Homo sapiens: one gene and its partners. The protein of the gene in region 1 purifies or fractionates together with the protein of each later gene. This does not show direct contact. Each region holds a gene or a part of one and is shown in the gene's direction. Other genes may lie near its edges.

Region 1 (3,651 bases):
TAGTCTCGCTGCACCACTGTGTAAGGAGCTACTTGTTTTTAAGGCACACTTTAAGAAGTTGTCTTTAAATTTCTTCATTGATAGTTTTGACACATTTTTATATTAGTTTTCTATCTTTTGGTAGCCATTTCTATAGTGTCTAAATAAGTCAGGCACATTTGTCACATAGTTCCTATTATAATCATATCTTCTTCAGTATTTTTGTTAATTTCCTAGAGCAATCTCATACATTGTTCACATTTGACGATTAAGTGGAGACTTTGCTGTTTTATCATACAGTACTTTTGGAGCTCCTGTTTTTACTAGTCCTTGCTAATTAGCAAAAGCAGCAGGATCCCTACCCTCCTTAAGTAACAAAAATAATAGAGATGTTAACCGTAGCTATTCTGTCTTTATGTCTTCAGGGTAGCATTAAGGATTGGATGGCTCCTGGGCATTATCCCTGCCCCTCTTCCTTCCCCCACCAATTCAAGTAAAATTTTCTAAAATGTTCCTCTTTAAATCAGAAGTACTGTTGTACTGGAAGTTTAGCAGCATAATGTTTTTAACAACTTTAAATCTAGATTATTAAGGATTATGGTTTAGAGTCCGATCTTCAGGCCTCTTTTGAAATGACCTCTTCGTGGTTGGTCTTTTAGGCCAGTTTATTGTAATGTAAACTCTTGAAACAAAGATCTGGGTTTTTATTAATCATCACAAACCCCATCCCCACAAACACAGTTGTGTACAGCACCTAGCACAGAATCCTACATAAGTAAGTGCCCCTACCTAAGTGCCCCTCTTACCTTGTGCTTCCATAGCATGATTGTGCCTACCTTTATGGTATTTATAACTTACCAGTTCATTTGTCTGTTTTATCTACTAAACTTAGTTTCTTGAGTAAAACTCTGCCTTTTATCTCTGTAGCCTTAGTACATAGCACCAGGCCTTGTAGATTTAAGGCACACGCACAGAAGAAGCTAATGTAAATATTTCCAGATAGTTGAGTTTTATCTTTTTATATTCATAACTTTAAAATTTTAACTTGTGGATACCCATGTTTTCTAATTTATGCTCATGTCTTCTTAAATTGAGTATATTAGATTAATTTTACCCTTTTTTAAATGGTCCAAGTTATTCTGAATAGCATTCTATTTTTCTATAAATATAATGGTAAATATATCCTTACACTCATTATGGTATCTTTATTTGTTCTCATAAGGATGTTGTAGTGGGTATAATGTATGTCTCTCTGTATGTTGGTAATAAAAATGGTAATAGTGAGCTGGGTACGGTGGCTCATGCCTGTAATCCCAGCACTTTGGGAGGCCGAGGCGGGTGGATCACGAGGTCAAGAGATAGAGACCATCCTGGTTAACTTGGTGAAACCCTGTCTCTACTAAAAATACAAAAAATTAGCCGGGTGTGGTGGCATGTGCCTGTAGTCCCAGCTACTTGTGAGGCTGAGGTAGGAAAATCACTTGAACCTGGATGGCGGAGGTTGCAGTGAGCCGAGATTGCACCACTGCACTCCAGCCTGGGTGACAGAACGAGACTCCATCCCGAAAAAAGAAAAAAAAAAAAAAAGTAATAGTTTTGTGTATTTGTTTATATTTACAGATAAAAATTTTTCAACCCCAATATATCAGTCTCTTAAATTTGAAGTGAAATTTATACTAGTTACAAAATCTAACATCTGACAACCACTAAACTATACTGACCTATTGTGCTTTAAGTGTAGATACACTAATACCCATTGCTGTGTTTATTTTAGAATAGGTGGTTAATCTTCATGCATTTAGAGCAGCATGTGAGTATCCATTTCCATTTATATAGAAATTAGGGTAAGACTTTTTAATTGAACATATGAAAATTAAGTTCCAAAAGGCTGTTCATAAATCCTTTTGTTTGAAAGTTGAAAATTAAACTAAGCAAGTGCTCTGTGTGGTCATAGACCCACCTGTGAAGTTCACTTTCACAAGGGAATAACATGTTGGTGACATTGGTTATGATTTTTCTTGATTTCTTTCCATCTGCCTTATAGGATGTGTTCACAGACTTGCATTTTGGAGTAAGTATTTTTATCGTTGATATGTTTATAATAAAAGGCTGTTCCAAGAACAGAAGATACACCGTGAGCCAGTGTTTGTAGATATTAAGTTTAATCCATGCATTGATTTGTTTTGTTGTGTTTTTTTTTTTGTTAATTAAATTGGACTCTTAAGGTTGTCCCAACCCCCTGCTCTCTATATTATTTTGCCAGGCTTTTAAGCTCACAACCTTGCTATACACCATTGGTTTTAAGCCATAGCTACACGTTGGATTCATCCGGGGAGTGTTAAACTAAATGACCAGTTGCCACTCCAGACCAGTTAAATGAAACTTCTGGGTGATTCCAATGTGCAGCCAGAATTGGCAGCCAGAGTTGAGAACCACTGCCAGAAATCTAACAAATAATGCAGTTGCAGAGACTAAATAACTGCATTTGACTGACAAAAGACCATTTGTTTGTGGTTAGTAGAGTCTGTGTACTTTCCTCTGTTGCAAAGCTTTGCTCATATCCATGAAAGTTCATGAATTAAAAACTTATGAAGAGAAGCAAAGTTTGTGGTTAGGAGCATGACTTTAGCTTTTGACTACCAGGTTTGTTGTGTAACCTTGGAAAAGTTTACTTAATCGCTCTACTTCAGTTTCCTCATCTATAAAGTAAAATATCTGCCTCAATGGATTGGTATTATAATTAAATGAGTTAATATTTGAAAAGCACTTAAAACAACATTTGGCATATAGGAAACACACTAAGCTTGTAAAATACAGAAATTTAAAAATAACAGCTCTTTTATCTGTAGCTATACTGCTTCAATGCATTTAAGGACTATGACATTAAAGACTGGATGGCTCCTGGAATTTTTACCTAGACTGTTCTGTAGTCTTCTCAGTATTAAAATGACTTTTTCTTTTTCTTCTTTTTTTTTTTTTTGCCCCTTTTGCTGTTTGTGTTTCTAAGTTTTTATATGAAAAGTCCAACCTTTTTAGCATGTCAGAATATTGGTGGTGTTTTCTTCCCACATTAGAGAAATGACTATTCATAACATGTTGGCTATAAGATGCAGGTTTTCAAACTTTTTGTTTTCTGGTTACTTTTTGGCTCTTAATTACCAAACACCTTGGATGTTTTTTATCCCACTTTTAGATGTGTCACTGTATCAGGTGCTCAAGAGCTGAGAAGACTGGTCGTTGTATGGCTTAACTATGTAAGACAATCTGAATTCTGAACATTTTGTTTTAATGCCTTGAAATGGTAGCTGAACTTGTTTGCACTTAGTCATGAGTTTCTTTACTTACCTTGTGTTAGAGAAAATGACCATTAAAGGTACTTTGAACTTGAATTTGGTAGTCTTGTCATCTACAGATAAGGCATCTTAGGGCCCGTATTTGGCAATATGCCTAAGTCAGAATCAAATAAATTGTTCTGAATTTCTAAAAGTTTAAGACTTTTGATACTCATGTATTTTTTTGCTTTTTTAGAGAATTTGATGGCCCTCAAATTTAATGAAATATAATCTTAATTTTGTAACATATACCATGCTTGTGGCACATCATTTTTAAAAATTAAATTTATTGAGATATGATTCATGTACAGTAAATTGTGTCTTTTTAAAGTATATAATT
Region 2 (3,651 bases), on another chromosome or scaffold:
CAATGGCTGGAGACACCAGTGTCCGCATCTTTGAGCAGCATTTGTGAGTGTAGATCCTATAGAATTGAAGGGAACTCCCCTAGACTTCCTAAAAGCTGGGCCTACAGGAAGCCAAACCTGAGGAAGCTGAGCTAGGAGAGGTGGAAACAAGGCCCAGGGAGGTGAAGGCTAGGCCAGGGAGTGGTGTCATGGATGGCCTTTCTGTCTGTCCTCCCTTTCAATAGGGGTTCAGAGCCAGAGATCTTCGGCCCTTGTTCCCCTGGGCAACTGGGCCCCTCTCCCCGCCCTGCAGCTGAGCGGCATCTGCTGCTTCTGGGAAGGAACTTCTTGCAGTGGAGGAGACCAACACAGCAGGGTGAGGGCATGGCCCGGGGGGGCGGGGGGCGGGTAGGCTAAGAGTAACTGGTGGGGTCTCCAACCTTGCAGAGGGGAGGGTGGGATCAAGGGGGATCTGTTCCCAGGCCCCTATTGTGCCCCTCCCCCACCCTGTAGCTGCCAAAGCCATGCAGCGCTTCGAGCCAGGAGGTGATGGGAGCTCAGGGCGAAATGCTCCCCGGCAGAGGCTCTTGCTACTAGAGGTTGTGGACAAGAAGGTAAATATGGGGCCAGGGACTGGGTGGGAAGAGGGGTTCCGTGATCTCACTGACCCTGACCCCCGACCTCCAGCTACAGCTGCTGACCTACAACTGGGCTCCAGACCTGGGGGCAGCATTGGGCCGAGCGCTGGTTCGCCTGGTGCAGTGGCAGAATGCACGAGCCCATCTCATCTTCTGCCTACTCAGCCAGAAGCTTGGCCTCTTCCATCATTATGGCCAGTTGGACTTCCCCGTGCGAGATGAAAAGGTGCCTGCTGCTCTGGTTCTTCCTATAGTTTTGGCTACTGAGGGGTCAGTTAAAGGAAAAACCAGCTCAGAAGCCAGAAAGATGGGACAGACTGAGGGCAGAGGTAGTGGGGAGGGAGAGTCTGAGAGAGGAAGCCCTGGGATGAGAGAGAGGGTCCGAGGGCAAAGGCTATGAACCCATTGCAATGCTCCATCTCTCAGGAGCCAAACCCATTCCTGCTGCCGACCATGGAAGTGGAGACCCTCATCCGGAGTGCAAGTCCCCCGCTGAGCCGTGAGCAGGGCCGACTGAGTGGGTCCTCTCGTGGTGGGGGTCCTCTTCCCCTGGACACATTCCCCTTTGACGAGGCCCTAAGGGATATCACGGCTGCCCGCCCCAGCTCCGTACTTGGTCCTGTGCCCAGACCTCCTGATCCTGTCACCTACCATGGACAACAGTTCCTAGAGATCAAGATGGCAGAGCGCAGAGGTGAGGGTACTGGGCCAGGCAGCAGGGACAGGAAATCTGTGGAGTCTGGGAGGAAGGGAGTGACAATGCCTGGGGCTACTACTAATGCCCTCAACCCTCAGAGCTGGAGCGCCAGATGAAGATGGAAAACCTGTTTGTAACCTGGCAGCAGCGTTCTACCCCAGCCACCATGCCCATCAGTGTGAGTGACCCCAGCTTGCATCTTCCTTGAGTATCTGTGATCCTGCCCCGTCACTGCTCCATGCTCACTGCCCTGTTTCCCCAGGCTGGAGAGCTGGAGACCCTGAAGCAGTCATCCCGCCTGGTGCATTACTGTGCAACAGCCATGCTCTTCGACCCAGCTGCCTGGCTGCATGGGCCCCCAGAGACCTCTGGACCCCCTGACGGGCAGGTAAGGCTGACTCCCAGACTTCTAGCAGACCTTTGCTTACCCCACAGTGACCCCCCTCCTCCATCCCCAGCAGGATGGTTGACAGTGGGGAGAGTCTTCCTTGATCTTTACTCTCATAGCGGCGCCATCGCCCTGAGTCAGGGTCTGGGAGCCGAGAGGCCCCCACAAGCTGTGAATCCTTGGATGTGTCGCCCCCGGGAGCCCGTGAGGAGCCTTGGCTGAAGGAGCTGAGCTTGGCTTTCCTGCAGCAATATGTGCAGTATCTGCAGAGCATAGGTTTTGTGCTGGTACCACTGCGGCCCCCCTCACCCGCCCGCAGGTGAGCCCGTCCCTGTTTTCCCTTCTGTCTTCTCCTCCTGCACTGCAAGTGAGGCCCCACAGGCCCTTCCTCTCTTTACAAGGTCCTATGTTGACAATTTGGGCTGGGCCTGTGCATGTTTATCCCACCAGGCTTGCACTCATGTGAGGGTCTCAGATACTTTCACACAGCCCTCATGCGTGTCCTGCAGACCTTGTATGCTTTATGGAACTCATGATGACACTCATACAAAACTGTGTCCATTTTCACAAAGCTCATGCCCACACACATCTTGTACACTTACACACTTGCATACATCCCCACATGTGAATTTTTTTGGAGATGGAATCTCACTGTGTCGCCTAGGCTGGAGTGCAGTGGCGCGATCTCGGCTCACTGCAACCTCCACCTCCTGGGTTCGAGCAATTCTTGTGCCTCAGTCTCCCAAGTAGCTGGGATTACAGGTGCACGCCACCCTGCTTGGCTAATTTTTTGTATTTTAGTAGAGATGGGGTATCACCATGTTGCCTAGACTGGTCTTGAACTCCTCAACTCAGGTAGTCCGCCCACCTCAGCCTCCCAAAGTGCTAGGATTATAGGTGTGAGCCATCACGCCCGGCCTGCACATGTGAATCTTGTACATGCTCCTAAGCCTCTGGATCTAGGACTTAATGATTCCTGTCCTTATCATCCCACTGACCTCTCCTGAGATTTGATGTAGTTCTCGGCCCAGGGAAGTCCTTTTCTCACCAAGGACCTCTGTGCTAGGCCTACTTGCATCACTGTCCTTGGCCTGTTCTTGGTCATGTTCACCCACTGGCCAGTACTGACAGGTCTGAGTCTTGGGAAGTAGGCAGCCCGTCTGTTGCCACCTCCATCTCCCCTGAGCTCAGGGACAACTCTGCAGCCACCTTTTCATCCACTGTCAAATCTCAGATTCCCGTGTTTGTGGCCCCTGCTCTATGTTCCTCTCCAGATTCTGTGTTCTCTGCCCTTTCCCAGTGGCTGTATGCGAAAAATGAGCTGTTCACCTTACACATAGCTACTTTCGTGTCTCCAGATTTGTGAGTTTATCAAGGCATGTTCTCCCTCCTCTCTGTTTTCAGTTAGAACCTTTTCAAGCCAGTAGTCCAGAAATGCCAGTTCCAACTCTCTCATGTTTCTGTGACCAGCTCCCCACTCCCCAGGTTTCCCTCTCTTCCAGGCATTAGGAAGAGAAGGCGTGCCTGCCCCTCCTGTGATCCCATCTCAGAGGCCAGGCTGGCCCCTCCTACCCTGGGGAGGAGCTGCCCAGCTTGCTATCTTGACAGCCAGTTCCCAGCTCTAGGAGCTTCTCTAAAGGACTTTAGTTTGCACACTTGCCATAAGTTATGCTCTTTCCCCCAAATCTGAATTCCTTTAGACACTGGGTTAAAAAAAAAAATGTTTCTACAGCAAAATTTAAAGCCAGGTCTTCCCTTCCCACCAATCTTTAACAATCACCAATCACTAAGTCTTGTCCCAGTTTCCTTGAGGTTTAAATGGGACATTTTTTCCACCAGAGGTTTTGACCCCCAGCAAGAATTCTGGCAGTTTATAGCCCCTTGGCGTGAGTGGGTCCCCCCAACCCCTTCTGTTCTGTCCCTTCTTCCCAGTCCCTCCCCTGCTTCCC
Region 3 (3,651 bases), on another chromosome or scaffold:
CAGGCATGTGCCACAACGTCCAGCTCATTTTTTGTATTTTTAGTAGAGATGGGGTTTCACCAGGTTGGCCAGGATGGTCTCCAACTCCAGATCTTGTGATCTGCCCACCTCGGCCTCCCAAAGTGCTGGGATTGCAGGCGTGAGCCACCGTGCCCGGCCGGAAAATATTCTTCATGTATAGCAGTGTTGGGTACCGCAGGAGATTTTTTAAAAAGTAGCACTCAGTCCTTACCTTCAAGGAACTTAGTTTAGTTGTGGGAGATAAGCTATATCCATGAGAAGTTTGGCTGAGAGGAGGCGGAGTTGGGCTCCCTGCAGGTGGGGAGGAGGGTCAGTTCTCATTTCTGAGGGAGATGAGCTGACGTCTGCAGTTTGGAAAGGAACCAGAAGTTCCACATGGTGGTTTTGCAATAGAACATGCTCGTGTTTACCAAGCAATTCTGAGGGAAAGGCTAAAAAAAGTGTTAGTTTATCAACTTGATAGAACTAACAGGTTTCGATGAGCTTTGATTCAATATAATGCTGCGGCCAGGCATGGTGGCTCACGCCTGTAATCCCAGCACTTTGGGAGGCCGAGGCAGGCGGATCACTTGAGAGGAGTTCAAGACCAGCCTGACCAACGTGATAAAACTCCATCTCTACGAAAAATACACAAATTAGCCAGGCGTAGTGGCGCACGCCTGTAGTCCCAGCTACTCAGGAGGCTGAGGCAGGAGAATCACTTGAACCCAGGAGGCGGAGGTTGCAGTGAGCCAAGATCACGCCATTGCCTGGGTGACAGAGTGAGAGTCTTGTCTCAAAAAAATAAAAATAAATAGGTGGGGCGCGGTGGCTGACACCTGTAATCCCAGCACTTTGGGAAGCCAACGTGGGCGGATGACAAGGTCAGGAGATTGAGACCATCCTGGCTAACACAGTGAAACCTCGTCTCTACTAAAAATACAAAAAATTAGCCGGGCATGGTGGCATGCGCCTGTAGTCAGAAGATTGAGGCAGGAGAATCTCTTGAACCTGGGAGACGGAGGTTGCAGTGAGCCGAGATCATGCCACTGCACTCTAGCCTGGGCAACAAAGACTACATCTCAAAAATAAATAAAAAATAAATAAAATAAATAAATTTAATTCTGGAAGCTACACATGTTTTTCCCATTTTTTTAGGCAGCTTCGAACCAGTGCAATGACGATGCCAGTCAACGGGGCCCACAAGGATGCTGACCTGTGGTCCTCACATGACAAGATGCTGGCACAACCCCTCAAAGACAGTGATGTTGAGGTGAGATTTTTGGGGTCTTCACAGATTTTTTTATGTTGGAGGCCTTCATTTAATCTTTAGTTCTAATTACAAATTAATTAGGGACAGCCTTGAAATGAGTATTATCCTGCTGGATTTAGAGGTGGTGGCAGACAAAATGGCTACAAATCCTTTGAGGGTAAATTTAAAGATTGCTGGGTTTCTTCAAAGTGTGGAGCACTGTGCAGGGTGCTCTGGAGAAAAGCGAGAAGGGGAGAGATCACTGACAGTTGACCCTTTCCTGACAGTTCACAGGGAATATAGATCTATCTAGACATCTGAAAGCACCTTTATTTTATTTTATTTTACTTGTTTATTTATTTTTTTGAGACAGAGTTTCACTCTTGTTGCCCAGGCTGGAGTGCAATGGCGTGATCTTGGCTCACTGCAACCTCCACCTCCTGGGTTCAAGGGATTCTCCAGCCTCAGCCTCCTGACTAGCTGGGATTGCAGGCACCCACCACCATGCCCGGCTAATTTTTTTTTTTTTTTTTTTTTGAGACAGAGTCTTGCTCTGTCGCCCAGGCTGGAGTGCAGTGGCGTGATCTCAGCTCACTGCAAGTTCCACCTCCTGGGTTCATGCCATTCTCCTGCCTCAGCCTCCTGAGTAGCTGGGACTACAGGTGCCTGCCACCACACCCGGCTAATTTTTTGTATTTTTTAGTAGAGGTGGGGTTTCACCATGTTAGCCAGGATGGTCTCGATCTCCTGACCTCGTGATCCGCCCACCTCAGCCTCCCAAAGTGCTGGGATTACAGGCGTGAGCCACCGCACCCGGCCTTTTTTTTTTTTTTTTTTTTTTTTTTTTTTTTTTTTTGAGATATAGTCTTGCTCTGTTGCTCAGGCTGGAGTGCAGTGACGCGATCTCAGCTCACTGCAAGCTCCATCTCCCGGGTTCACGCCATTCTCCTGCCTTAGCCTCCCGAGTAGCTGGGACTACAGGTGCCAGCCACCACGCCCTGGCTAATTTTTTGTATTATTTTTTTTTTTTTAGTAGAGACGGGATTTCACTGTGTTAGCCAGGATGATCTTGATCTCCTGACCTCGTGATCCACCTGTCTCGGCCTCCCAAAGTGCTGGGATTACAGGCGTGAGCCACCACGCCCGGCCTAAAGCATCTTTTCTTTTAAGGAAGAAGAACAAGGAATAAGGTTCAGGGAGGGAGAAACTTGGTGAAATGTAGGAATAAAAATAACAGGATGGTGGTGTTAAAAATTAGGTGGGACACTTAAAGATAACTTTCTCTTCAATCATTTTGTTTTTCTTTTTCTGAGATGAAGTCTCGCTCTTGTTTCCCAGGCTGGAGTGCGATGGCGCGATCTCGGCTCACTGAATCCTCCACCTCCCAGGTTCAAGCGATTCTCCTGCCTCGGCCCCCCGAGTAGCTGAGATTATAGGCGCCTGCCACCACACCCATCTAAGTTTTGTTTTTTTGTTTGTTTGTTTTTGAGACAGAGTTTTGTTCTTGTCGCCCAGGCTGGAGTGCAATGGCGTGATCTCGGCTCACTGCAACCTCCGCCTCCCGGGTTCAAGTGATTCTCCTGCCTCAGCCTCCCGAGTAGCTGGGATTACAGGCATGTGCCACCATGCCCGGCTAATTTTGTATTTTTTAGTAGAGACGAGGGTTTCTCCATGTTAGTCAGGCTGGTCTCGAACCCCCGACCTCAGGTGATCTGCCCATCTCGGCCTCCCAAAGTGCTGGGATTACAGGCGTGAGCCACCACGCCCAGCCAAGTTTTGTATTTTTAGTAGAGATGGAGTTTCACCATATTGGCCAGGCTGGTCTAGAACTCCTGACCTCAGGTGATCCACCAGCCTCGGCCTCCCAAAGTGCTGGGATTACAGTCGTGAGCCACCGCACCTGGCTATCATTTTGTTTTTGTTAATTCATTGATTAGTGCTTTCTCAGATACTAAAACCTTTGAGGAGGATTCATTCTATTCCATAATGTGAAAGAGTGTCTTTTCTCTTTAGGAGGTTGTAATTTGGATCAGAGCAAAATTTTAAACTAAAATTTCCAAATATCAAGCATCTGTTTTCTTCTCATAAGGTTTACAACATCATTAAGAAGGAGAGTAACCGGCAGAGGGTTGGATTGGAGCTGATTGCCTCGGAGAATTTCGCCAGCCGAGCAGTTTTGGAGGCCCTAGGCTCTTGCTTAAATAACAAATACTCTGAGGGGTACCCGGGCCAGAGGTATGTGAATATCTTCAAAGGCCTGGTTCTGACACAGTCATAGGGAGTACTCAGTCAGCCTAGGACCTAAACAATTTGGAAATTTCAGAAAACAATAAGCTTCCCAGCTGTAGGATTTCTGTTCCACGCCTGCTCTCTGACAGAACTCTTTTATTCCCAGCATG

The links.
Region 2: the proteins of SAMTOR (region 1) and SZT2 purify together in Homo sapiens (co-immunoprecipitation; 3 studies listed by BioGRID and IntAct, with this or other methods). This does not show direct contact.
Region 3: the proteins of SAMTOR (region 1) and SHMT1 purify together in Homo sapiens (affinity purification with mass spectrometry; 2 studies listed by BioGRID and IntAct, with this or other methods). This does not show direct contact.

What each region holds. Positions count from the first base shown.
Region 1 is NC_000007.14:112,929,836-112,933,486, reverse strand, and holds part of SAMTOR (S-adenosylmethionine sensor upstream of mTORC1), read left to right. Parts: intron 1-3,651. UniProt on the Homo sapiens protein: S-adenosyl-L-methionine-binding protein that acts as an inhibitor of mTORC1 signaling via interaction with the GATOR1 and KICSTOR complexes.
Region 2 is NC_000001.11:43,441,776-43,445,426, forward strand, and holds part of SZT2 (KICSTOR complex protein SZT2), read left to right. Parts: coding exon 1-43; intron 44-224; coding exon 225-355; intron 356-492; coding exon 493-593; intron 594-666; coding exon 667-843; intron 844-1,043; coding exon 1,044-1,311; intron 1,312-1,412; coding exon 1,413-1,492; intron 1,493-1,576; coding exon 1,577-1,702; intron 1,703-1,821; coding exon 1,822-2,021; intron 2,022-3,651.
Region 3 is NC_000017.11:18,353,508-18,357,158, reverse strand, and holds part of SHMT1 (serine hydroxymethyltransferase, cytosolic), read left to right. Parts: intron 1-1,158; 5' UTR 1,159-1,177; coding exon 1,178-1,273; intron 1,274-3,341; coding exon 3,342-3,487; intron 3,488-3,651. UniProt on the Homo sapiens protein: Interconversion of serine and glycine.